7 linked regions of the Homo sapiens genome follow. The protein of the gene in region 1 purifies or fractionates together with the protein of each later gene. This does not show direct contact. Each region holds a gene or a part of one and is shown on either strand. Other genes may lie near its edges. The genes, in order: TMEM200A, ANKRD22, FYN, STX6, PPP3CA, PLEKHH3 and STX7.

Region 1 (3,500 bases):
ATATTTATAAATTTATTAAATATATTTACGTTATATTTATATTAAAACCCCTTTGTAGGGAGACATACTGTATATGAAATGTCTTCAGCCATATAGTGATATATGACATATCTTGACCATAACTACATATAGTCTCTAATGTGAGCATTGTTTTTGCTCCCAATACCAATATCATCATTACAGTGAGGTAATACTTTGCACTCTTCATCTCAACACTCATTTTTAATAAATGACCTCAAACATCATGCTCCAAAAGAGCAACCTTCTAATGGCTTTCCAGTGCACTGAGTATAAAACCTACTCCAATGCCCCCTCCCCAAATATGTGAGGCTGGCTCCTCATTCTCTCGCAGGTTGTAGCTTAAATGCCTCAAATGCAGAGAGGTCTTCCTTGACCATCTGATCTAAATGAGCGCATGCACTCTCTATGACATCAGATTTCTTGACTTCCCTTACAGCACTTTTTGAATGCCTGAAATTGCCTTGCTCATTTATATGTTTCCTGTTTGTGTCCTCCATTTACAATGTAAGCTCCTCCATAACTTTTTGTTTTGGTCATTACTGGATCCCCAGCTGGCAGCACAAATATTTAATGAATCCTTTATTAATTAATAAACCTTCTCCTGAGCCAAGTTTACTTTTTAACGCATGTTATAAGAGATTTTATGTGTCTTATAAGTAAGTAAATAAATGTATAGGCATAAATTCCTACACAGTGTTCTGCGTTATTGTTGTGTAAGAAGATCTGTCTCATATTTGACAAAATGAGTCATAATATAATTTAACAGCACCTGCTGAATGAATCTCTCTAAATAATCATTTGTTGAACAAATGAACGAAAATAATTTTGTTCAAAATTACTGACTGAGATCCATAAAGGAGAATAGAGTTATTACAATAGAATAATATCCTTCAACTTTTAGAAGAAAACCAAAACATTTTTTATTTTAGTTGTAAATTATTTTTGTAGGAATATAATAGTTGTGGAAAAATTGAAATTGGCACTCAAAAACCACCTCAAATTGACTGCTACTGTAAGTTTAATAGTTCCCTTTACTCTCAGTAAGTGTTTTTAGACAATAAAATACCCTGCAGAGGTATGTGTAAGATCCAAATTCCTCTTCTGGAATAAGTCAAAGTTCATTGCCATAAAACTAGGTACTGTGATGTGGTTGAATTTTCTTTGGAAAAGAGAGTAAAACCAGAAGTTTCAAAATTCAGGAAGTTTGTTTCTGGGCAATCAGTGACTAACATTATAGAAGTTTTCTAGGGGAAAAATCTCAAGCATTTTCATGGCCAGGTGAGGTTGCTCACACTTGTAATCCCAGTACTTTGGGAGGCTGAGGTGGGTGGATTACCTGAGGTCAGGAGTTCGAGACCAGCCTGGCCAACATGGTGAAACTCCATCTCTACTAAAAATAACAACAACAAAAAATTAGCCTGGCGTGGTGGTGTGCCCCTGTAATCCCAGCTACTCGGGAGGTTGAGGGAGGAAAATCGCTTGAACCTGAGAGGCGGAGATTGCAGTGAGCTCAGATCATGCCACTGCACTCCAGCCTGACTGGTGACAGAGCGAGACTCCGTCTGAAAAAAAAAAAACAAAAACAAAAACAAAAACAAAAACTCAGGCATTTTCAGATCCCACCTCCCAGCAAAACTTTGTCTAAGGTCATCTGCTAGGGACATAGCCATGGACAAAACAGTTACAGGCCTGCTCTCACTTGGGTTACAGCCCCAGTGAAAAGTGCAGTTAGAACACTCCATGACTACTAGGACCTAATATCCAAGGCTACAGAGGCGGGGCTGTCAGGGGTTTAGCTCTGCAAAAAGGGGCTCTCATCCTACATCAATCAACTTCTCTCACGGGCTGTTCCACAGCAGAGTCTGAAGAGTCCCCAAACAGGATATGTATAACACTGGCTTTCAAAAAATCATTCACAAGCTACTTTTTTCTATCATGGGCCCCTATCTGCATGTTCAGAAACATAAGTAAATTTTTAAAAGTGAAATGAATCACAATATCTTACATAGTCTACATTCTAAAAGGGAGATTTGGGTAACAAAGGAACAAAATCAGCAGTTAGCATAAACTATTCTTTTTTTCAAAATGGTGGCTTTTTTAAATTTAAAAATAAAAACAATCACCTAGTGAGAGCATGTGAAGGGTAGTTCCATGCACTGTCAGTCATAACTTCAGTTATTTGAAAATCAGTTTGGCATTAAGTATCAAGAGCCTGAAATTTTCATACCCTTTGACCCAGGAATTATCGTTCCACGAATCTTTTTAAAAGAAGTAATCTGATAAACATATATAAAATGGAATATAAATGCATTTATAACCCTTATGCACAAAAAACAGATTCTGAAATTTGAAGAAAGATTCATCAAAGTGCCATTTATAATATCAAATATTTGGAAATGGCCTAAAAGTTCAATTTTAAGGGAATAGTTAATAAATTATGATATGTCCACATAATCCAATATTATACTGACATTAATAAAGCTTGTCTAGAAGTTGGAAAATATTAAGACATAAGATTAAGCAAACAGAGTAGGTTGTAATACACTATTAAGCATTATGGAAAAAATCATTAAAAATAAGGAGAAAGAAAATGCCAAAATGTTATGAGTGCCTTTGGGTCATAGGATTACAGGCAAATTTTCTCCCTGACTTTTTATACTTAATGTATTTTTCTAAGGTTTTTATTGGGAGTGTGTATCGCCTTTATGATTAGAAAATCTAACAACATCTCTTCAGAAATGCTAACTCCATTTTATTGCAAATACTTGCACATGTATGTTCACTAAGCCGATCTGACTTACTTTGCCAAGGGAAACAAAATTTGTGTCTCTCCTATGCCAACCTCAGCTTAGAGACAGTACTGAGATTCTTTGGATTCATCCTGCATTTAAGCCCAAAGATGTTGATTCTCAAAAGGAAAATACTTTTTTTTCTCCCCAGCAGTTGCTAATCTATCAGCACCTCTGTGATTAGCTCACTATTTACAAGAAAGAGCCTACTCCTATTCACCATTGCTTTTGTGTCACAGGCCTCTAATATTCTTTGCATATCTCTACCAGCTTTATTTCAAAGCATTGTAACCATTTGTTTACATATTATTCTATTGAGTTGTTCTAAAAGTTTTACACATGGTTGTTTTACCTCTCCGAATAGGCTACAAGGTTCTCATAAATACTTCTATTTTTATACACCTTCTCATTCCCCTTCCTCTTGTTGTACATACATACACAGTCAATTGCGCACACATCCAGTCACACACCTAAGCAGATACAAATTTGGCCTTGTATTTGTTGGGGAACGATATGATGTCACTCACATTCTATTAGTAACTCATTTTATTTAGAGCATCCTCAAGTACACACCTTTGTAACTAGAGTGTTTCATGAACCTGCTACATTCAGCATGTGCTAGCGAGTGTCCTCTCTCCCTCTCTATATGTATCTACTTCTCATTTTTTCACATTTCAGGGCAGAGTATCT
Region 2 (3,500 bases), on another chromosome or scaffold:
ATGCATAATTTACTTTAATTAAATGACCAAGCTCCCTCCTTGTTGTAGCTCATAAACTGTGAATATTGGTTACACCTGTTAACATCAGCCGCAGAACAAGTCTGCCCGTCAAAAATGTTATTATTTCATTGGGTATTTAAATGCCACAGAATTTGAGGAACTATAATTAAACATGACAATGTTGATTTTTATATTTGGATTTATAGGAGAGAGAAAAGAACTTTAATTCACTAATAAAAATATAATCTGCTCATATCCTCGAAGAATTCTTTAAAAATTCATTATGTATTTAGCACATAGCATTTAAATACATGTATTTTGGGGGCAGGGAGAATCTGTTATTTATTTACAAACATTTTTAGAGATTCTAAAGGTAAAAATTACAACTGTGATTAGAAGGCTCATTCAGAATTTATTGACACACAACTCTGCTTTCTAAGATGGTTCAATGTTTAGAGGCTGGAGGACTGGGCAAAAATAGTAATCGTAATGAATAGCTCAACTCTAGTTTCATGCACGTGCAATTTATTAATGGGGCCTAAAGTTGTAAATTTGTGATGAATTAACAAATAAGTGACATGAGAGGAAATGATAGGGGAGGAGAGAGGAAAGCATTGGGTTATTTCAGAGAAAAGTAGGCAGAGAAAGGCAGTTTAGGAGGTGACACAAGAGGGAAGCCTAAGGAGAGAGAACTGGATGGAGCTTCCCAGGTGATGACAGGGTTGAACTCCAGGGCTATACCCAGCTGAGCAGGGAGAGCTTTGCCTCTTCAGGAGACTGGAAGTTGGGGAAGACTCCAACAGGCTTGTGGTCAGAAGCTCAGGAGACTGGGAAGGAAAAGTGAATTTCTGAGGAGTCCTAGTTCATTTCATTAATTTGTTCAATTCTTTAACGTATGTTTATTATGGACCTACTATGTGCCAGACGCTGTGCTAGCTGTTAGGGACACAATGATGAACAAAATAGGCATAGTTTTTTACCCCATGAGAGTTAGAGGGTGGTGGGGAGAGTCATTAATCAAATGGCACAAACACATGTAAAATTACCATAAAGCGGGTGATACAGAAAGGCGACTGGTGTTAGGATAGCTAAAAAAGAGGGATTTCACCTGGTCAGGTGGGTCAGGGAAAGCTTCTTAGAGAAAGAGGGACTTGGGCTGATGAATGAAAGGTGAATATGCCAGGCAAAGAAGAGAGGGAGGAGGCTTCTAGGCAGAAGGAACTTCCTGTGCAATGATTCTCTGAGAATGAAAGATTAACAAAGGCCAATGTAAGTAGAACAGAGTGAGCCAGGAGGCGCAGAGTGAGAGAGAGGCCAGGGCAGGGCCATACGTGGAGCCAAAACATACGGGGCTTTGTAGGTCATGCTGAAGAGTTTACTTTTGTCCTCAGAGCAATGGGAAGTAATTGCACAGCTTTGAGCCAGGAAGGGAAAGACAGGTACTAGGCCCCATCCTCAGTGGAATTAGGTAGGTTTGGGGTGGGACCTGAGAAGTACATTTCTAAGGTTCTTAGGTGTCAGTGCCGCTACTTCAGGACCACAGTCTGAGAACCTGGCTTTAATTAATTGATATTAGAGTGAGTGAGAAGCTGGGGGAAATTTTAGGAAGGGTGCATGCATGCATAGGAGTGTTGGGATTAAAATGAAGCCTATTGATTAAATAGTCTCAGGCATAAATTGGAGAAACTATTTGTAAATAAGCCTTTCTTATAATTACCATTTGTAATAGGTATCAAAGACAAAGCAGAATGAGGCTCTTGTACGAATGCTACTTGATGCTGGCGTCGAAGTTAATGCTACAGATTGTGTAAGTTTATACTTTTAGCCATTTTGAAAAAATATTCAAAATGGTATTTGTAGGTAGCGTATTTGTCATCTGTACAGTTGCTTTATTTTCCTAGACAATTTTACATTTAGTTTTCTTTTATTTTCTCCTTTTTTTTCCCACTGACAGGCAACCTTGAGGTTATTTATATTCTGCTGAACTCATGGGAATAATACCTCTATTGATTATAAAGCATTTTTAAAATAATTGGCTTTAATGTTGTTGAGACGTTAAGGAAAACTAAGGCTCCGATAACAAAATACCAGCCATAATAGTTAAGAAGCTGGAGTGAGAATGCCCATGAGTAAACTCTGGGCTTGCCACTTTTTACTTCTATGAGTTTGAGCAAGTTGTAAACTTATTTTACTTTCAGTGTCCTCATCGGTAAAATGGGGATATGGATAATACTTATCTCATTGGGCTTGTTCATGTAAAGCACTTAGCACATGCTCAGAATGTAGTAAGTGCTCATTGAATGGCAACAGCTGCCACTGCAGCCAAAATCCCAACCCACTGATGAGAGGCCCCGTGTGCAAACTACAGATAAATAAGACAAAGGTCAAAGAAAAATCCCACTGATGGTAAGAGCAGTGATAACAACAGTAGCAGCATCCGCTCACTTCTTCCTGTTTATGAGCATAAGGTGTTGTTTTCACTTTCACCTCTGTGCTCTTGCACTCATCTTTCTTTCTCAATGATCACAGAAAGACAAAAGTTTATTTCTATGGTGTTTTGCTTATGGTGATTGAATAAAATTTTGGATTCCCAGTTCCTTATTGAAAAAGTAGGCAAGTGGAAATTTGATTCCAAAATACTAACATTCTATTTGTGATGCCTAACATATTTTACGTGTGTGCACATCTGTGTGTATTACCATTGTTTTATGATAGAGACCATGGCCCCATTCCTGTTTCTATCAATTATTTACATCATTTCGGTTTTGCCTATGCTGGTATCATGTTTAAATGCAGGCAGTTGTGTGTGTGTGTGTGTGTGTGTGTGTGTGTGAGAGAGAGAGAGAGAGAGAGAGAGAGCAAAAGAAAATAACTTTATGAAATTTATATTCCCTTTTATTTCAAATAGAACTTTTGGATAAATTTGTATTGACAGTTACTGTGCATTACCATTTCTTTAGATAGCTTTGAAATATATTAAGTAAGAGATTATTAAAGATGAAGTTAAAAGTTTGTTGAAGGTTTTTCTTGGTCTTTTCATTTAAATTCAATAGATTTAATATTCCTGCCTGTGACCAAAATTTCTCTAGGATATTTTCTCAGCAATTTATGTGTATTTCTCTCTCTAGATAGAGATATTGCATTCCTTCAGCTAGGCACAGTGACACTAGCCTGTAGTCCCAGCTACTTGGAAGGCTGAGATGGGAGGATCCCTTGAACTCAGGAGTTTGAGACACATGCAGGTACACACACAGACACCACTTCTAATACCAAAATTTTTTCAAAAACTATCTGAGTATTAAAATCTACTTTCTAGGTAAGACAGTGTTTTGTATTTTTGGATAATTAGACTCTATTTCACATGACAAAATTCAGAGCCAGAACTTCCATTTGTCATGCCACCACTTAATAAAAATAAATAATTGCAACATGATCTCCTATAATTTTAGAGGTGTTTCTAGGGAATGGGATCCAGAGCTAAACCTGTCTTGATAGCCAAA
Region 3 (3,500 bases), about 19 Mb from region 1:
TGCCACCACGCCCAGCTAATTTTTGTATTTTTAGTAGAGACGGAGTTTCACCATGTTGGCCAGAATGGTCTCGATCTCCTGACCTGGTGGTCTGCCAGCTTCATCCTCCCAAAGTGCTGGGATTACAGGCGTGAGCCACCACGCCCGGCTGGAATGATACTTATTTAAAGGATTATTTTTAGGATTACATGGGTTAATATGTTTAAAGTCCCTTGCAGATAGTAGATATTCAGTAGAGATACATACTTCTCTTTATTTGATTGTCATTGATAAGGCTGGCTGCACTGGGCCTTTGTAATTTCTTTTATAGCCCTTTTGGGTCAGTTACAGCTTTGCTTAGAAACAATTCATGGGTTTAGGCCCCACTCAAAAACATGTTTCAGTAAAACAATATTAATACTTATGGAATCCTCTATCTTCCTTCCTCAGAACTCATTAAAAACAATATCGATCAGTACCCTTTGCTACGTGTGGGTATAGATCTTTAGGTGTGGTCTGCATTAAAAGAGTTAATACAGGTGGCCGGGCACAGTGGCTCACACCTGTAATCCCAGCACTTTGGGAGGCCAAGGCAGGCAGATCACCTGAGGTCAGGAGTTTGAGACCAGCCTGACCAGCATGGAGAAACCCTGCCTCTACTAAAAATACAAAATTAGCCGGGCATGGTGGTGCATGCCTGTAATCCCAGCTACTCAGGAGGCTGAGGCAGGAGAATCACTTGAACCTGGGAGGTGGAGGTTGCGGTGAGCGGAGATCGCACCATTGCACCATTGCACTCCAGCCTGGGCAACAAAAGCGAAACTCCGTCTCAAGAAAAGAAAAAAAAAGAGTTAATACAGTTAAAGCACTTAAAACATAGCCCAGCAAATGATAAGTACTACAAAGATGTATGTAGGTATGTTAGGTGGATAAATAGGTAGTAGACAGACATACACATATATATGTATGAGTTAGCTAGTTTAATAAATCCACATTATTGTGTCCATCTCTCTCTGGACTTAATCTCAAGTATCGTAAAATATATGACCTCCTTCTTCCTCATTCACCCTCTAATAATAGAGGATTTTAGTCAAATTACTCACACAATCACAGAGAATTGGACCCTATTAGAAAATTTATTTTCAAATTTTACAAATATCAACTTTAAATCATTACATATACTGTTCACATTTTGTTTTCCAATAAACACAAGACAACATGCCCATCAGAATTGGGATGGATGTCTGTGTAATTGACGAAGTTTGTATTACAGAGGAAGATCTTAATGTATTTAGAATTTTGGGTGCTGACTCTTAAATAGCAAAGATCACTTATAAATTGTCAAATTTCCCATGAATGCTTAGTGGGCAGATATTTTATGAAGTTTAAATGAACTTTTCTTTAAGCCACTTGTTTTTTCATAATTTATATTTTGTAGGTTGCATGTTGTAATTGTATGAACCATGTCTTTAACAGGATAATAAGAACTCCAATTTACAGAATCCTTAAATTCCAAAGTCAGTTATATTAAATATAAAAATCTTAATTTAAACCAGTCTTCTTTTTCAAATAGAAAATAATCTAAATTAGCAGATTTCTTCCCCTTTATAAAGTTATTCTTAAGCATCATAGGTCTAATAATGGAATACACAAAGAACCTAGGTATGGTTTTGTTTTTTGAATGCTGGGGCTGAAAGAGACCCAAAAGATAATCCAGTTCCATTCCTATATTTTACAGATGAGGTAACTGAGGACAATCATAATCCAGGCCTTGCCTTCAGATTTGCTAGATTTTTTTTTAACATGCTAAATTTAAATATTTCTGTTCCCTCTCAGCTGCTGTTTAATTTCCCCTGTCTACCTACCTGACAGAAGCCATTGTTCTTGTGGCTAGCCATCAGTAAAGCTGAGGAAATTTGCCTTACCTTGTTGAAGTATTGGCAAGCAGACTGTGAGCTCCTTGCCAGTGCTTATCAGCATGCTTGGCACACCTGTGCAAGGACTCAGTCAAGTAACTTGTCCATTGCAGACATTGAAAGTCTAGAGGTAATTTCCAGACATCCTCATGTGGTGCCATATTTTTAAATGGCACACCCCATAAACTTAAATAATCTAATTTCTTCCATGCACACTGTACTCCCTAAGGGACAGCTATTAGATGGCCAGGCCTGTTCCAACCCCTGGACTTTCATCACTGTATGGTGCAGAGCTTTTGGTATAAATGTGTAATCATATGACTGAGCCAAAAAAAGAGAGAGTGGTAATATATCAAAATTTAAAAAAATTTTAATGAGTTATAAATCTTAATATAGCCATCTTAGCCATAACCACAAATAAACTCATTTTTTCTGTTAAAATACTTGACAGAGTCCTTGCAATTGAATGTCTTTGTTCAACAAAAACTGTATTAAGTGTTTTAAATTTAAAATCTAATCTTATGCAAATAGCTGGTGGTCAAAACCTTTTTCCATCAAAAGAAGATCTTTGGTTTGACTTCATATTCTGGGATGTTTGTAGGTACCTGGAATGGAAACACAAAAGTAGCCATAAAGACTCTTAAACCAGGCACAATGTCCCCCGAATCATTCCTTGAGGAAGCGCAGATCATGAAGAAGCTGAAGCACGACAAGCTGGTCCAGCTCTATGCAGTGGTGTCTGAGGAGCCCATCTACATCGTCACCGAGTATATGAACAAAGGTTGGGCAACACCTCTCCTGTCTCCAGCTCACAGTGCCTTAAGGGGTTGTTTAGGGGAGAGAAATGGAAGTTTCCTACTTGCTACTTTTCTAGTTTCTGCCTGGGTCAAGTATTCCCATTAGGAACCACCAGTTATGTGCTCGTTAATGAAAACATTTTTTAAAACAGACTAACCTTGCGTTTACCCCACCCCAAATCCTTATGAAATGCCAAATACTTTTTACATGTTATGTGTGTCAGAAATTCAAGCTCCTCTCCATAATTAAAACATTCATTTTTAATATCAGGGTGGTACGGAGGGTTATGATAGTTTGCTGTTATTTTGAATGTAGTAGCTTTTGTTACATTTCCTTTTTGCAGGGCTAAACAATTAATATCAGACACTGGTCTCTAAGCTAAGTTTAGTCTCCATCATTTCAACATCTTTTTTATTTCCAGCTCTCTTCTTAAACGTCAGGCGATGAAATTACATGCTTTCAGAGACCACATTTATTCTCACATTCTCTCCCCTACAACCCCTCTGTCTTCCTAATCAAACCAGCATTGTTAGGGATAAGGCCAGAGATCATTTTGTTTTGGAAAAATAGATGAACCAAACAAGAAACAGCCTTAAAAGGCAATACATTGTTTATCAGAGGATACCAGTGTAATTTTTCTTTTCCATGTACTTTCTTTTAAAATTTAATGGGAATTTTTTTTTCTGGCAAACGGTTTGTCCTTTGTATCCAGGGTTATTTTGTAAATAACTTTGTGATTAAAGCATAAAATATCACTGATGACCATCATAAGCCTCCAGCTTCTGCAAATGATTATCCCTGCTTTGG
Region 4 (3,500 bases), on another chromosome or scaffold:
AAAGGCCATATTAGGACTTATCATCTGAGTATAAATTATTAATACTGTCACACCAAGTGGAAGCATGTGGGAATGCTCATTGCCCTTTAGTTAATTTGTAGGATTGCTTCATTATACTTTTACGTATAGTCTGTTCAGAGAAAAATATTAAATTTGTCCTTCCCCAACAAACTTGATATTGTAGCTGCTTAAATAATGGCTATTGTATTCCAAGCATCAGCTGAGAACATAATACTCAGACTGTGTATCAAAGTTTTGAACTTTGATATTTGTCTGTGAAGAGCCTTCTGTGGGAATGGTGGTTGCTGAGGATGGTGTATGATCATAAATGTTAACCTAAATCATGCAGTAACTTGACCATGGAATGTTGTCTGTGATTTCTCTCCTTTGCCTCATCTTGATTACAGAGAGGTACAGAAAGCAGTCAACACTGCCCAGGGATTGTTTCAGAGATGGACAGAGCTCCTCCAGGACCCCTCCACAGCAACAAGGGAAGAAATCGACTGGACCACCAACGAGCTGAGAAATAACCTCCGGAGCATAGAGTGGGATCTAGAGGACCTTGATGAAACCATCAATATCCTTTTCTGTGGTGTCTGTGCCATTCGGGATAAATAGACAAATGGACAAGTTTTTCTCCAGTTGTTTCCAGTATGTAGATGAAACATTTTATAATCGATTAATGTTTGTTGCTCTTACTTGTACCATGACATGTTTAAAGTATTTGCCCAGTAACTTAAGGTACAGTAGCCAAATTCTTATACAGTGTGTGACAAATCCTGTACTATAAATGTATATATATATATAAAGGCAGCATAGTGTAATGATTATGACTGTGGACCCTGGAGTCAGATTTCTGGTGTTCAAGTCCTGCCTCCACCAATGTAAAGGGAAAAAAAAAAAACCCTTTTTTTCTTTTTTTTTTAAGTCTCTACCCTCACACTCAAGTCAGTATGATATTTCTGACACTGTCTACTTGGAGATAGCATCAGGTCCACAGGTTAAGAGCTCAGTCCCACAAGACTGCCCCCACTTCAGATGCCAGTTGCAAGCCCTAGGTTGTGACCAGCGCTTCCAACTGACCACGTATAAATTGGAGTTCCCACGACCCCCTCCATAGATCGAATTAATTTAATTTGCAAGAGCAGCTCACAGAACTCCGGGAAACAGTTTCCTTAGGTTTATCCATTTGTTGTAAAGGATATTACAAAGGATACAGATGAATGACCAGATGGAAGAGATGCATGCAAGGTATGGGAGAAAAGGTGCAGCACTTCCAGGCCCTCTTCAGGTGCCTCCAGGAACCTCCACATGTTCACCTATCTGGAAGCTTCCTGAACTCTGTCCTTTTGGTGTTTGTGGAGGATTCATTTCGCAGGCATGATTGATCACATCAGTTGGCCATTGGTGATCAGCTCAGCCTTCAGCCCCTTTCCCCTGGGGTGGGGTTAAGCAGGGGGCTGAAAGCTTCAACTGTCTAATCACATGGTTGGTTTCTCTGGGGACCAGCCCCTCGTCCTGAGGCTATCTAGAAACCCCCAGCCATCAATTATCCCATTAACATACAAAAGATACTCATCTGGAGATTCCAAGGGATCAAGGAGCTGTGTGCCAGAAATGAGGGGGCAGAGACCGAATTTGCATTTATTACAGTATCACAACCAGTTACCATGTGACTTGGGCTCATCACTTAACCTCCTGTGCTTCCGTTTCCTCTTTAGTGGAAAGTTAGGATAACAAGAGTACCTAGCTCATAGGATTATTGGGATTATACAGGTAAAGAGTTTAGAATGGCACCTGGCACACAGCTTATGTAATAGTGTTAGCAGTCATTATCATATAGAGGTCCATACAGGCCAGTGTTACACTTCGGTAATTAGAGATCAAAAAATCTTTTTGTAGACTGTCTTCATGTTTAAGAAGTGATGTTACAGTGCTACCGTCCATTGAAGAGATGTCTTGTTCCATGAAACTGCATTTAGTAAAAGCAGATCTGCTCTGCTAATTCATGGTATTGATGTGAAGTAAGTCCACTGATCTGACTCATGCACTGGAGAACTGTAAAAACTTCATTATATAGCCTTTTTTTCCAACTGGAAATCCCACTTAACCAAAACTTTAGATGGAAGATATGCCACTTGCATGTTCTGAGTTCTGTTTTGTTTTTTCCCTAAGTGAGATAAAACATAAGGAAACCAGCTTCTGTCAGGATCACCTTATAGTTAGCACAGGTTCGTATGCAGTTGATACATGGAGTAAATAATTTTTGTTATTCATGATGACCCTGGTACCTTTTACATTATTAAAAGGCAAGTATGTTCTCTAAAATTAGTGGCAAATATGTGAGGGGGCAGGATCAAAAGCACAGTTACAGGGAGATAATTCTTCCCTTGAGAAAGGAGGGAAGGAAAAAAAGTTAGGGGAGATAGAGAAAATGTGAGATTAAAAAAACAAAAGTTTTAATAGATACTCATCATTCAACCAGCAAGTGTTTATTGAGTATACTATGTGCCAGGCATTTTGTTGGTTACAGAGATTAGATTAATAAACACTATACCAGCCCTCACAGAACTTTGAGTGGATAGGGATGGGGGACAGATGGTAATCAAGTAATAACACAAATAGATACCTGCAGACTATGAACGAGAAGTATAGAGAGCTATGCAAGTGTCTGACATGGTGCGTCGGACCAGGCTAGAGGGTAAGGGAATGAGGGCAGCTTCTCTGAAGAAGGCCCGATCTCTCTAGATTAAGAAGTAGGGTTAGCATCTTGGCATAATGGGAAGTGGTTTGGAATGGCAGGAGAAAAAGGCTTGCAAAAGCTGTCTTAGTAAAGGTGATCAGGAGTCAAAAAAGGATAGACACAAGTGTTGGCAAACAGGAAGAGCCCAGCTCACCTGTGGTCAGATAGCCCTAAGTGTTTGCAGTGAAGCTCATCAGCAGGGGCTATGCTTCCTAACCAGACAGATCATCTCTGTCTTGGAGCAAAGGGATCCTCCCTCCTGTGGCTGTGGGCAGAGGAAGTCTGAGAATGATTGGTGTCCAGCTGACTGTGTTTTCAGAAAGTTTGAGCCAGATTTTATTTGTTTGCATGTGAGAGATTCAGTGAGTTAACAGGATGTTGTCAGGCTTTGATGATGAAATTGTTTTACCTTGACTTTTTGACCTACGCATAGTTGAAGCAAATCCTAGAAAATTTAACCTTGATGCAACTGAATTGAGTATAAGAAAAGCCTTCATTACAAGTACTCGGCAAGTTGTCAGGGTAAGGAATATGATCTTATTGTGTTATCTGTATAAGAAATAGCCAGACTTCTTAGAGCTCTTTCCCTTAATTGTAAACTAATAGGTCACCTCTGAAACCACTTTTTAAATATGAATTAAATGTGAGCTTCCCCATATATAATTTCTCTGATTGGCTGCGCATGGTGGCTCATGCCTGTAATCTCAGCACTTTGGGAGGTGGAGGTGGGTGGATCACTTGAGCCCAGGGGTTTGAA
Region 5 (3,500 bases), on another chromosome or scaffold:
GCTAAATCTAAGAATAAATTTCTAAGATTTGGATTATGTTTAAAACGTAACATTATTGAGAATAAAAGATATGATTTCATTTTCTGTTTACTTTTTAAAAGTATAAGAAACAAATATCATGAGAATTTTCTCATTACTTTAAAAACATTGTTAAAGTAGTAAACTGTTTTAATAAGCTTTCAGTAGCTCACATTGCTAAGTGACCTTTTTTGGCTTTTTGATACAAATTTAATCCTTTATTTTCTAACAGATGTTACCAATTACTGGACAATTATTTTTTCTTTTACCAGGCAATTTAAAAATGTCCTCTAATGGGGTTGCTCACATCAATTATTCAAGTTTTGATGTTTATGATGAAAAAGGCATTTACATATTGATATATTGGTATTTATTTCAATCCCAATATTTCTTCTTTCTGTAGTAATAGGTAATGAATAAACTGTGAGGAGTTTTTTATGTTTTTTAAGATATTACTTGGTGTTTAATTACCCTCAAAGGGTATGCTTTTTCTGCAAGAGGCACAGATCCATGAAGTTAAAGATGAAGGGGAAAATTACCCTGAGTCTTACAAAAGCACCTCAAAATGAATGGAAACTGACAAAAATGTACTTAGAGAAGAAAAGCATAAGAGCAAACTTTACTGCATTTAAGAAGTACAGTTGAGGCCGGGTGCAGTGGTTCCTAGCACTTTGATAGGCTGAGGCAGATCACTTGAGACCAGGATTTTGAGACCAGCCTGGGAAACCTAGGGAGAATTCATCTCTACAAAAAATTAGCCATGTGTGGTGGTGCATGATTGTGGTCCTAGCTACTCAGAAGGCTAAAGTGGGAGGAAATCTTGAGCCCAGGAGGTTGAGACTGCAGTGAGCCATGGTCATACCACAGTACTCCAGCCTGGGTGACAGAGCAAGATCCCATCTCAAAAATAAAAGCAGTACAGTCAGCCCTCCGTATCTGAGGGTTCTGCATCCATGGATTCAAACAACCTCAGATTGAAAATAATTCAAGAAAAAGTTGCATCTATACTGAACACATACAGACTTTTTTTCCTTGTCATTTTTCCGTAAATAATACAGTTTAACAACTATCTACATAGCATTGACATTGTGTTCAGTATTGTTAAGTAGTCTGGAGATTAAAGTATACTCAGAGGTCCTAGATTCAGGACACCCAGGGCTACAAGATGCATTAAAAACCTATTCTTTGAAGAAGTTGCAAACTGGTTGGAGAGACTGATGCATAAACTAATAATATCAATAAAATGACACAAATTATAAATAAAGGGTGAAGAGGGCAAGGGAAACTAGATATTATGGTGAGTTTAAATGGATAAAATGTATACCTTTAAAAACTGCAGTTCAGTAAAATGAAAAGAGAATGTGGTCCTTTCTAAAAGTTGGTTTCCAAATGACATGATTTAATGTTTACCTGGGCTTGATACAGGTCATGGGTATAAATGCAAAATACCTAATGCTGCAGGCAAAAGTATAATAAACCTGTTCATACACTCATGTAAATAGAGTCTATATACTCAGGTAAATTTAATGTATGAGATTTATTTTTAACATCTCATAGTTTTTCTCCTCTATAACTTCTCTTGTCTTTATTACTTGTCTTCATATACTATTTTTGAGTCATATACCACATCGCAAGGAGATGTGCAACATAGGGAAGGAAAGGGGAAAATGGATATATTTAAAAAACAACTTTACTGGGCTAAAATTAAGAATATATAAGAACTTAAATATATTGGCATATTTTGAAATATGCAAGAGATCAATGGACATTTTGTGCTTTATCTAAATTCTAGATGTTTCATATGTTATAGCCACAGTTTGCTACTGTTATCTTTTAAATGATAGCACTGTTTTCAGAATGGCAGAAATTTTTTCCTAAAAGAATACTAACCAAATGGAACCTAAATCATAAACATCAACAAACGTTTTTCAGTATGTACCTTTCACTATATTCCTTTTATTCTTTAAAAGAAAGATTAACATTAATACAATAATAATCCCCTATTAATAAATGTTTGTTTTTTGCAAAGTCCACTGGCCAGTATTTATGATATAGAGAACAAAAATGTAACATACTGTAGAGAATAAGAATGTGTAGACCTACATATGTTTGTAATTTTTATGTTAATCCATTCACTCAGCAAATATATATTCAGTATCTACTAAGTACCAGGTACCATAGCCAAAATGACTGCACATTTCACTGGTACATGTTATTCCTGCACAGTTACCAACATTACCAAGACTAACCCTGTGCTTACTTCACTTCTAGTAAGTTCCCTTTACTCACCATCTCAATTACTTACATGAAAGGATTTGTTTTGTCAGTTACTTTATTTTAAAATAATTAGTTCTAATCAATGTGCTGTGCTCACCACCAATTGCTTTTTAAACTCTGTTTTAATTCCAATTGTAGGAGTGCATGTTTGTCTTAAGGTCCTTGGAAGAATTTTTTTCTTTCTAAGCAGACCCCTGAATTCCCCCTTTACCACTCTTTAAGTTTTAAGTCAGTCCTGCAGAGAAATTTTGTCCTACCAGGTGCAGGGAGGAAGATGGTCAGGAATGCCTAACCTGCTCTTACCAGCTAGAAAAGATGAGCTTTATCTCTCACTTTTGTCAACTTCCTTCAGTGGTCCATTCCTGTCAAGTTAAACATCATTAAGTTATTTATCTTTCTGAACAGTTTCTTCTGCTTTAATTTATTTCTGCTTAGCTATATTAACAATAAGATTTGTGTTTTCAAAATTTTAAGCAAAATTTACACACAGGCTAATTAAAGTATTCAATGCATATTAAAAGTCCTATGTGTCTATAACTTATCAGATTGGGAGCTAGCAGAAAGAGATAAGATTATTGCTATATAATTTTTAGGGATAGACAATTTAATTTCCTTGGTTTCCTGTCTCATGGACCTCACTTAACCAGTAGTATGTGGGTGTTTTTTCTACCTTTTTTCTCCATCTTATTTAAAATTTGTTGGTGTATTTCCCTTAGTCAAACTAAAGAGAAACAATCATCTAATCTTATGTTTTATTTCTTTTGTATATGTACATATGAGAGGAGGAGGAAGAAAGAGATGAGGAGAGGTGAAAAGAAAAGATCCTTCTGCCTGATTGGGCTTTGCCAGCATATGATAGCAGTGCAGGCCTTGGTTCCATGAGCAGCATCAGATTCAAATTTCATAGAAAAAGAGCCCAGAGGAATTGAAAAAGAGAAATTAAATTCAACAAGGAGAGGCATTGTATACATTATGCATTCACGATAGGTTATGATTGAGAAGAAGCTGGTGCTTTGGGAAAAACATATTAGGTTCTACATTTACCCTTTTTGAATAGTTTTCTCCTTTCTAAACAGGGTGATAATAGGAGAATGCTGAATGCCTCTCCATTGAATTTGGAAACTGCCGGGCCAGCATTAGTGTGGTATTGTCTGCCCACACTTTTCTAGATGCAAGTTTAAGATCATGTTCAGTGTGAACATTGA
Region 6 (3,290 bases), on another chromosome or scaffold:
ACTTGGAGCCTCATCCCGGAGAAAGGGCTGCCGGAGGACGACCCGGACATCGTTGTGAAAGGTAGAGACCCCCCTCAGTGCACTCTGGAGGCCCCCAATCCCAACCCCCTAGGGATTAATGTCTCTACTGATGTCCCTTCCCTCCCTCTCCGGCCCCCAGGTTGGCTGTACCGGGAGCCCCGCGGAGGAGGGGCGCGGCCCTGGCTGCCCCCGCGCCGAGCCTGGTTTGTGCTCACGCGGGACTCCCTGGATCAGTTCAGCAGCAGCGGGAAAGGGGCGCGGCGTCTCGGGAGCCTCGTGCTCACCAGCCTGTGCTCGGTGACCGGCCCAGAGCGCAGGCGTAAGGAGACAGGTGAGACCTCCTGGGGACTCTCCTACCTTCCTAGGCAGGGGCCCCGGCAGACCCTAATGGCCCTCCCTGGCCTCTCTTTTCCCCAGGTCTGTGGTCAGTGACTGTGTCTGGTCGGAAACACAGTGTCCGCCTCTGCTCCCCACGCCAGGCAGAGGCTGAGCGCTGGGGGGTGGCATTGCGGGAAGTGATCGCCTCCAAGGCACCCCTGGAGACCCCCACCCAGCTACTGCTCAGGGACATACAGGTACACACCAGGGAGAGCCAGGAGAGTGGTGGACCCCAAAGCTTTCTGGGGTTGTGAGGAACTCCCTTCCCCATCAAGGTGACCCTCTCCCTGGCCCCCTAGGAAAGTTGCGGGGACCCAGAGGCCGTTGCCCTCATTTACCTGAGGAACCCGATTCTGAGACACACTAGTGGAGCCTTGTATGCCCCACTCCTGCCCCTGCCCTATGGAGTCAGCGCCCCAGGTGAGTGGTCCCATGGCCCAAGTCCCCTGGATGGGATGGGGTGGTTCAGAGGTAAGAATCTGAATCCCTTAACTGGCAGGGATCTAAGCATCCTTCATGGACCTGCCAGCTCCTCACTTTTCGAAGGATGAAGGTGAAACTGGAAGCTGGCCAGGGTGGAGGAGAGGAAGCCAGCACACACAAAAGGGCCCCCTTTGGCCACCTTCTCTATGGGTCTCATTCTGACTACTGATGTTCCTTCAGGAGTTTGTACACTCCCCTATTTTTTCATTATCCTCTTGAGACTATGCCATATTACCTTTACAAGTGGTAGAAAAGCTACCACTTTTGTAGAATGTGCTGGCCTCATCCAACTGTACTTCTCCCTAAACGGTGTAGTGACTGGCCCAGGTCCTAAAGTTAGAGGATTAAAGGGTGCTGGGAGAGGAACCCCGGTTTTCTGACTCCTAGTCCAGCCTGTTTTCTGACCTATGGTGGTGAGCCTCAGTATGGAGTTACAGAATCTGGGGTGTGAATCTACAGCCCTTCCCGGCCGTCCGTCTCCCTAAGTCCAAATGCAGGCTTAGTGGGATTGGGAAGGGGATTCCTGGGAGGCAGAGGTTGAGAGTCTGGCTCCGTGGGACCACTGCTTTCCCTTCACTCTTCCTGTCGTTCGTACCCTCCCCTCCCTGCCACCCCATCCCCTTATATTCCCTCTGACCTTCCCCTGGTTCATGCCTTCCTCCCAGGGCGCAGCTCTGTGTCCCCTCTCCAAACCGTCCCTCCGCCCCCACCCTCCCACAGGTCCGGGCTATGCACCCCTGCGCGAGGAGGCGGTGCGGCTGTTCTTGGCGCTGCAGGCGCTGGAGGGGGCGCGGCGCCCCGGGCCCTTGATGCAGGGTGTGCTCCAAACCTGCCGGGACTTGCCCGCGCTCCGGGATGAACTCTTCCTGCAGCTGGCTAAGCAGACCTCGGGCCCTGCAGGTCCCCCCGGGCTCCCGGCTACCCAAGACCCTGCGGCCCTGCGGTACTGGCAACTCCTCACCTGCATGAGCTGCACCTTCCGACCTGGGGGAGCTGTGCGGGGGCACCTCCTGGGGCACTTGGAGAGGTGAGAGGGGCGAGGTGGGGGTTACGGCCTAGGCGAGGAGCTACCGGGCTGGGAGAGAATGAAAGGTCTTTTGCAAAAGACTTGGTAGGTAAAGAACCGAGTAATACATACAGTGCCTTTGTGGGAGATACAAGATCCTATCGCAGTTGTGAGCGGATGAATTACAATAAAACGCCCCCCTTGGGCTGAGGAGTTATGAAAAGGCTGCTTTTCCTCCAGCTGATGCAGGCCAGCGCCAGGGCTTAGGAAAATGTAGTAAAGTGGCTGGATTTCGATTTCAGGCCGAAGGAAGATCACGAAGACTTTTGGAAGTGGTGGAGGCAGTTGGGAGAAAGCTGCCAGGGGACTTGAAAAGTAATTCAGCTCTATGCAAAGCACTGGGGAGAGATTTAGAAGAGCCTTCAAAGAACTTGAGTTGGGGCGGGGAGGAAATCGGCTAGATAAAATAAACTATAAGAGAAGCAGGCAAGAGGGAGGGGGAGAAGAAAGCCCTTGGAGTATTGATCCCTGGGTTCCTCCTAACCCAGGACCGAGCAGGCACTCCCGGACTCGGAACTGGCGGAATATGCGCGCTTCATCCGGAAAGCGCTGGGCCGGACGCGCGGCAGAGAGCTGGTGCCCTCGCTGGCGGAGATTTCCGCGTTGAGCCAACGGCAGGAGCTGCTGTGTACCGTGCACTGTCCGGGGGCTGGTGCCTGTGCTGTGGCCATCGACTCCCACACCACGGCGGGGGAGGTGAGGCCAGAGAAAGGCCCCATGACCTCCAACCCACCCTGCCAGCTTCTCACGCCTGTCTCTCCCTCTTCCTGGACCCTAGGTTTGCCCCGAGTCTAGATTATTTTGGTAAGGGAGGGAGTGGTGGTGACAGGACTAAGAGACCCCTTCCAATTGAATCAACCCCTCCCAGAATCCTGGCAAGACCTCTGAGTGGTCTCCCCTCACCCTCCTCTTCTAGGTGGCTCGAGAGCTGGTGGGGCGGCTGGGCTTGGCCCGGAGCCGCAACGCATTCGCGCTGTACGAGCAGCGAGGGGCCCAGGAGCGAGCCCTGGCTGGGGGGACCCTCGTGGCCGACGTGCTCACCAGGTTTGAGAAGTAAATGTCCAGCCCCAGCCCTGCTCTCTATTAGCCCATCCACTTCTCAGCTGAGGTCAGTCTCTAAGCGGACATTATCCAGCGCTTGCCCCTGGCCCTGCGCTGTGGTGTTCGCTGGTTTACAGACGGACCTGCCCGCCGCAGGTTTGCAGTCCGACTGCAGCATCACCTCCGCTGTCGGCTCCGCCCAGGCCCCGCCCCAAACACATGGCCCCGCCCCCACCCCAAGCTGCCCTCGCCGTAGGGGTCCGGCTTCTCCCTAGCGCTTCGTCCGCTCCTCTTCTGCAGC
Region 7 (3,500 bases), 2.1 Mb from region 1:
TATCAAGTCTATTGACAGGTACTTTTTAGTGTGAATAGAATCCCATAGTATAGATGTACCACAGTTTGTTTAACTGTTCACCTGCTGAGAGACATTGGGCCAGTTTTTGGCTACTATAAATAAAGTTGCTATAAACATTTGTGTACAAGTTTTTGTGTGAACATAATCTAGTTTTCTGGGTCAAATGCCCAGCAGTTATATAGTAGTTGGGTCATATAGTAGTTGAATGTTTAGTTTTTAAGAAATTGCCAAACTTATACCAAGTAGCTGTACTATTTTATATACCCACCAGTGGTGTATGAGTGATCTAGTTGCTTCATGTCCTTTTCAGCATTTGGTGGTGTCTCTTTTTTATTTTAGTCATTCTGATAAGTGTATAGTGACAGCTCATTGCAGTTTTGATTTACCATTTTCCCTTCGCTAATGGCAATGATGTTGAGCATCTTTGTTTCATATGCTTATTTGCCACCTGTATCTCTTCTTTAGTGACATGTTTCTTCATGTCTTTTCTAATTGGATTTTTTTTCTGTTGAGTTTTGAGGGCTTTTAAATAATGTGTGTGTGTGCCTCTGTGTGTGTGTGTGTGTATTTTTTTCTAGATACTAGTCCTTTGTTGGATGTGTGATTTGCAAATATTTCCTCCCAGTCAGTAGCATGTCTTTTCATTTCTCTTTTCTGGGCCTTTCACAGAGCAGAAGTGTTTAATTTTGATGAAGTCCACTCTATCCATTTTTCTTTTTATGGATCATGCTTCTGGTATCAAGAACTTTGCCTCTCTCCTTAGATCCCCCAAATTTTCTCTTTTATGTTGTTTTCTAAAAGTATTATAGTTTACGTTTTACTTTTAAGTCTATATTCCATTTTCAGTTAATTTTGTATAAAATGTGAGACTTAGGTCTGGGTTCATTTTTTTTGTTGTTGCCTATGGATATTCAATTACTCCAACATGATATTTGTCGAAAAGGCTCTTTTTTGTCCATTGAATTGTTTTTGCACCTCTGTCAAAAATCAGTTGAGCAAAAATGAGTTAATGAGAAATCAGTTGGGCACATTCGTGTGGGTCTATATCTGGGTTTTCTATTCTTTTCCATTAGACTATGTGTCTATACCTCCACCAACACCAAAATCTTGATTACTGTAGTAAGTCTTGAAATCAAATAGGCTGGTTTATTCCACTTTCTTTTTCAAAATTGTTTTAGCCACTTAGTTCCTTTGTCTTCCCGTATAAACTTTGGAATAATCTTGTCTGTATCTATTCAAATATCTTACTGGGATTTTGACAGGAACTATGTTATACCTATACATCAATTTGGGGAGATTTGACATCTTTACCATGTTAAGCCTTCCCGATCATGATCACAGGATCACTTCACTTCATTTCAGTTAAATTTTGTTTTCCTTCATCAGTATTGTGTGGTTTTCAGCATACAAGGTCTGTACATGTTTTGTTAGATTTATACCTAAGCAATTTAATTTTTGAGAGAGATTGTAAATGGCATTGTATTTTGAATTTCCTGTTCACATGTCTATTCTAAGTACATAGAAATAAAGTGAATTTTTCTATTTTGTATACTGAGACCTTATTGAGCCCACTTACTCATTTTAGGGGATTTTGATTGATTCCTTGGGATTTTTTTTTTATATAGATAGTCATGTCATCTGCAAATAATGAATAGTTTTATCTCTTCATTTCTGACCTATATTCCTTTTTTTTTTCCTTTCAGTCCCTTAATGCAGTGGGTAGAAATTCCAGCAGAAATAAAAGCAGTGAGAGTAGAGATCCTTGGCTTGTTTCTGGTCTTAGGCAGAAAGGATTCAGTGTTTCACCATGAAGTATAATGTTAGCTGTAGGTTTTTAAAGTAGATGCTCTTGCTAAAGTTAAGGAAGTTATCTTTTATTCCTTTTTTTCTGCAAGTTTTTATTATGAATTTTATGTTGAATTTTGTCAAATGCTTTTTCTGCCTTAATTTACATAATGCCATTTTTCTTCTTTAGCCCATTCATGTGGTAGATACATTGATTGATTTTTGAATGTTGAGCCATTGTTACATCCCTGAGATAAACTCCACTTGGTCGTGGTGTATCTTTGTATATATAGCTTAATTCTTTTGGCTAATATTTTGTTAAGGATTTTTGCATCTGTTTTAATGCGACATACTGGTTGGTGGTATCAGGGTAATACTAGCTTCAAAATGAACTGGAAAGTATTCCTTTCTCTTCTGTTTTCTAAAGCGGATTGTATAGAATTGGTGTCAGCGCTTTTTAAAACATTTGATAGAACTTTCCAATGAAATCATCTGGGCCTGGAGATTTTGGGGGAGGGAGTTCTTTTTATTGTAATTTCCACTTTTACAATAGTTATATGGCTGTTTAATTTATCTATTTCATATTGAGTTGTGACAGTTTGTATTTTTAGATGAATTAGTCCATTTCATCTAAGCTCTCAGATTTATATGTAGAGTTTTTGGTTGTATTTTTTGTTAGACTTTTGATGTCTGATATTCCAAAACTCCTTCATTTATCATTTCCTTTCTGTTTAGAGCACTCCTTTAGCCTTATTATTATTATTGTAGTTCCATTGGCAACAAATTCTCTCAGTTTTCTTTCATCTGAAAATGTCTTGATTTTCCCTTGATATCTGAAGAATATTTACATTAGACATAGACTTGTAGGTTTATAGTTCTTTTCTTTCAGCACTTGAAAATTGTTCTGCCACTTCCAGCCAAGAGGGGTGGCTCACGCCTGTAAGCCCAGCACTTTGGGAAGCCAAGGCGGGCAGATCACTTGAGGTCAGGAGTTTGAGACCAGCCTGGCTAACATGGCGAAACCCCGCCTCTACTAAAAATACAAAAATTAGCCGGCATGGTGGTGCACATCTGTAATCCCAGCCATTTGGGAAGCTGAGGCAGGAGAATCACTTGAACCCGTAGGCGGAGATTACAGTGAGCTGAGATCGCACCACTGTACTCCAGTCTGAGCAACAGAACGAGACTCCTTGTCAAAAAAAAAAAAAAGGAAAGAAAATTTCATGGTTCCCCATGAGAAATCCAGTTTTTTAAATTGTTTTGGTCCCTATAGATAGGTGTCATTTGTCTTTTTTCTTTTTCTTTTTTTCCTTTGTGTTTAGTTTTTAGTTGTTTAACCATGATGTATCTTGTAGATTTGGGGGGTTTATTATATTTGAGGTCTTCTCACCATCTATATGTTTATGTCTTTTGCCAATTTTGGGGAGTTTTCAGCTGTCATTTTTTTCAAGAACTTTTTCAGTCTTCCTTCTTTCTTCTTTCTTTTGAGACTCTGATGACACAAATGTTAGATTTATTGTAGTTCCGTAAGTCCCTGAGGTTCTGTTCATCTTTGTTCTGCCTGTTTTCTTCTGTTGTTCAGACTGTGTAATTTCTATCATTTTATCTTCAGATTTATTCATTCTTTCTGCAGTAGCTTCCATTCTGCTATTGAGCCTATCAATTAAGTGTTTCATATTGATTCCTGCATTTTT

The links.
Region 2: the proteins of TMEM200A (region 1) and ANKRD22 purify together in Homo sapiens (co-immunoprecipitation; one large-scale study listed by IntAct). This does not show direct contact.
Region 3: the proteins of TMEM200A (region 1) and FYN purify together in Homo sapiens (co-immunoprecipitation; one large-scale study listed by IntAct). This does not show direct contact.
Region 4: the proteins of TMEM200A (region 1) and STX6 purify together in Homo sapiens (affinity purification with mass spectrometry; 2 studies listed by BioGRID and IntAct, with this or other methods). This does not show direct contact.
Region 5: the proteins of TMEM200A (region 1) and PPP3CA purify together in Homo sapiens (co-immunoprecipitation; 3 studies listed by BioGRID and IntAct, with this or other methods). This does not show direct contact.
Region 6: the proteins of TMEM200A (region 1) and PLEKHH3 purify together in Homo sapiens (affinity purification with mass spectrometry; one large-scale study listed by BioGRID and IntAct). This does not show direct contact.
Region 7: the proteins of TMEM200A (region 1) and STX7 purify together in Homo sapiens (affinity purification with mass spectrometry; 2 studies listed by BioGRID and IntAct, with this or other methods). This does not show direct contact.

The regions. Positions count from the first base shown.
Region 1 is NC_000006.12:130,372,517-130,376,016, reverse strand, and holds part of TMEM200A (transmembrane protein 200A), read right to left. Parts: intron 1-3,500.
Region 2 is NC_000010.11:88,824,345-88,827,844, reverse strand, and holds part of ANKRD22 (ankyrin repeat domain-containing protein 22), read left to right. Parts: intron 1-1,729; coding exon 1,730-1,807; intron 1,808-3,500.
Region 3 is NC_000006.12:111,695,453-111,698,952, reverse strand, and holds part of FYN (tyrosine-protein kinase Fyn), read left to right. Parts: intron 1-2,496; coding exon 2,497-2,676; intron 2,677-3,500. UniProt on the Homo sapiens protein: Non-receptor tyrosine-protein kinase that plays a role in many biological processes including regulation of cell growth and survival, cell adhesion, integrin-mediated signaling, cytoskeletal remodeling, cell motility, immune response and axon guidance.
Region 4 is NC_000001.11:181,002,371-181,005,870, reverse strand, and holds part of STX6 (syntaxin-6), read left to right. Parts: intron 1-407; coding exon 408-577; intron 578-3,170; coding exon 3,171-3,265; intron 3,266-3,500. UniProt on the Homo sapiens protein: SNARE promoting movement of transport vesicles to target membranes. Targets endosomes to the trans-Golgi network, and may therefore function in retrograde trafficking.
Region 5 is NC_000004.12:101,057,527-101,061,026, reverse strand, and holds part of PPP3CA (protein phosphatase 3 catalytic subunit alpha), read left to right. Parts: intron 1-3,500. UniProt on the Homo sapiens protein: Calcium-dependent, calmodulin-stimulated protein phosphatase which plays an essential role in the transduction of intracellular Ca(2+)-mediated signals. Many of the substrates contain a PxIxIT motif and/or a LxVP motif.
Region 6 is NC_000017.11:42,670,705-42,673,994, reverse strand, and holds part of PLEKHH3 (pleckstrin homology domain-containing family H member 3 isoform 1 precursor), read left to right. Parts: coding exon 1-61; intron 62-160; coding exon 161-352; intron 353-438; coding exon 439-596; intron 597-698; coding exon 699-819; intron 820-1,602; coding exon 1,603-1,909; intron 1,910-2,436; coding exon 2,437-2,644; intron 2,645-2,864; coding exon 2,865-3,001; intron 3,002-3,289; coding exon 3,290-3,290.
Region 7 is NC_000006.12:132,450,617-132,454,116, reverse strand, and holds part of STX7 (syntaxin-7), read left to right. Parts: 3' UTR 1-3,500. UniProt on the Homo sapiens protein: May be involved in protein trafficking from the plasma membrane to the early endosome (EE) as well as in homotypic fusion of endocytic organelles. Mediates the endocytic trafficking from early endosomes to late endosomes and lysosomes.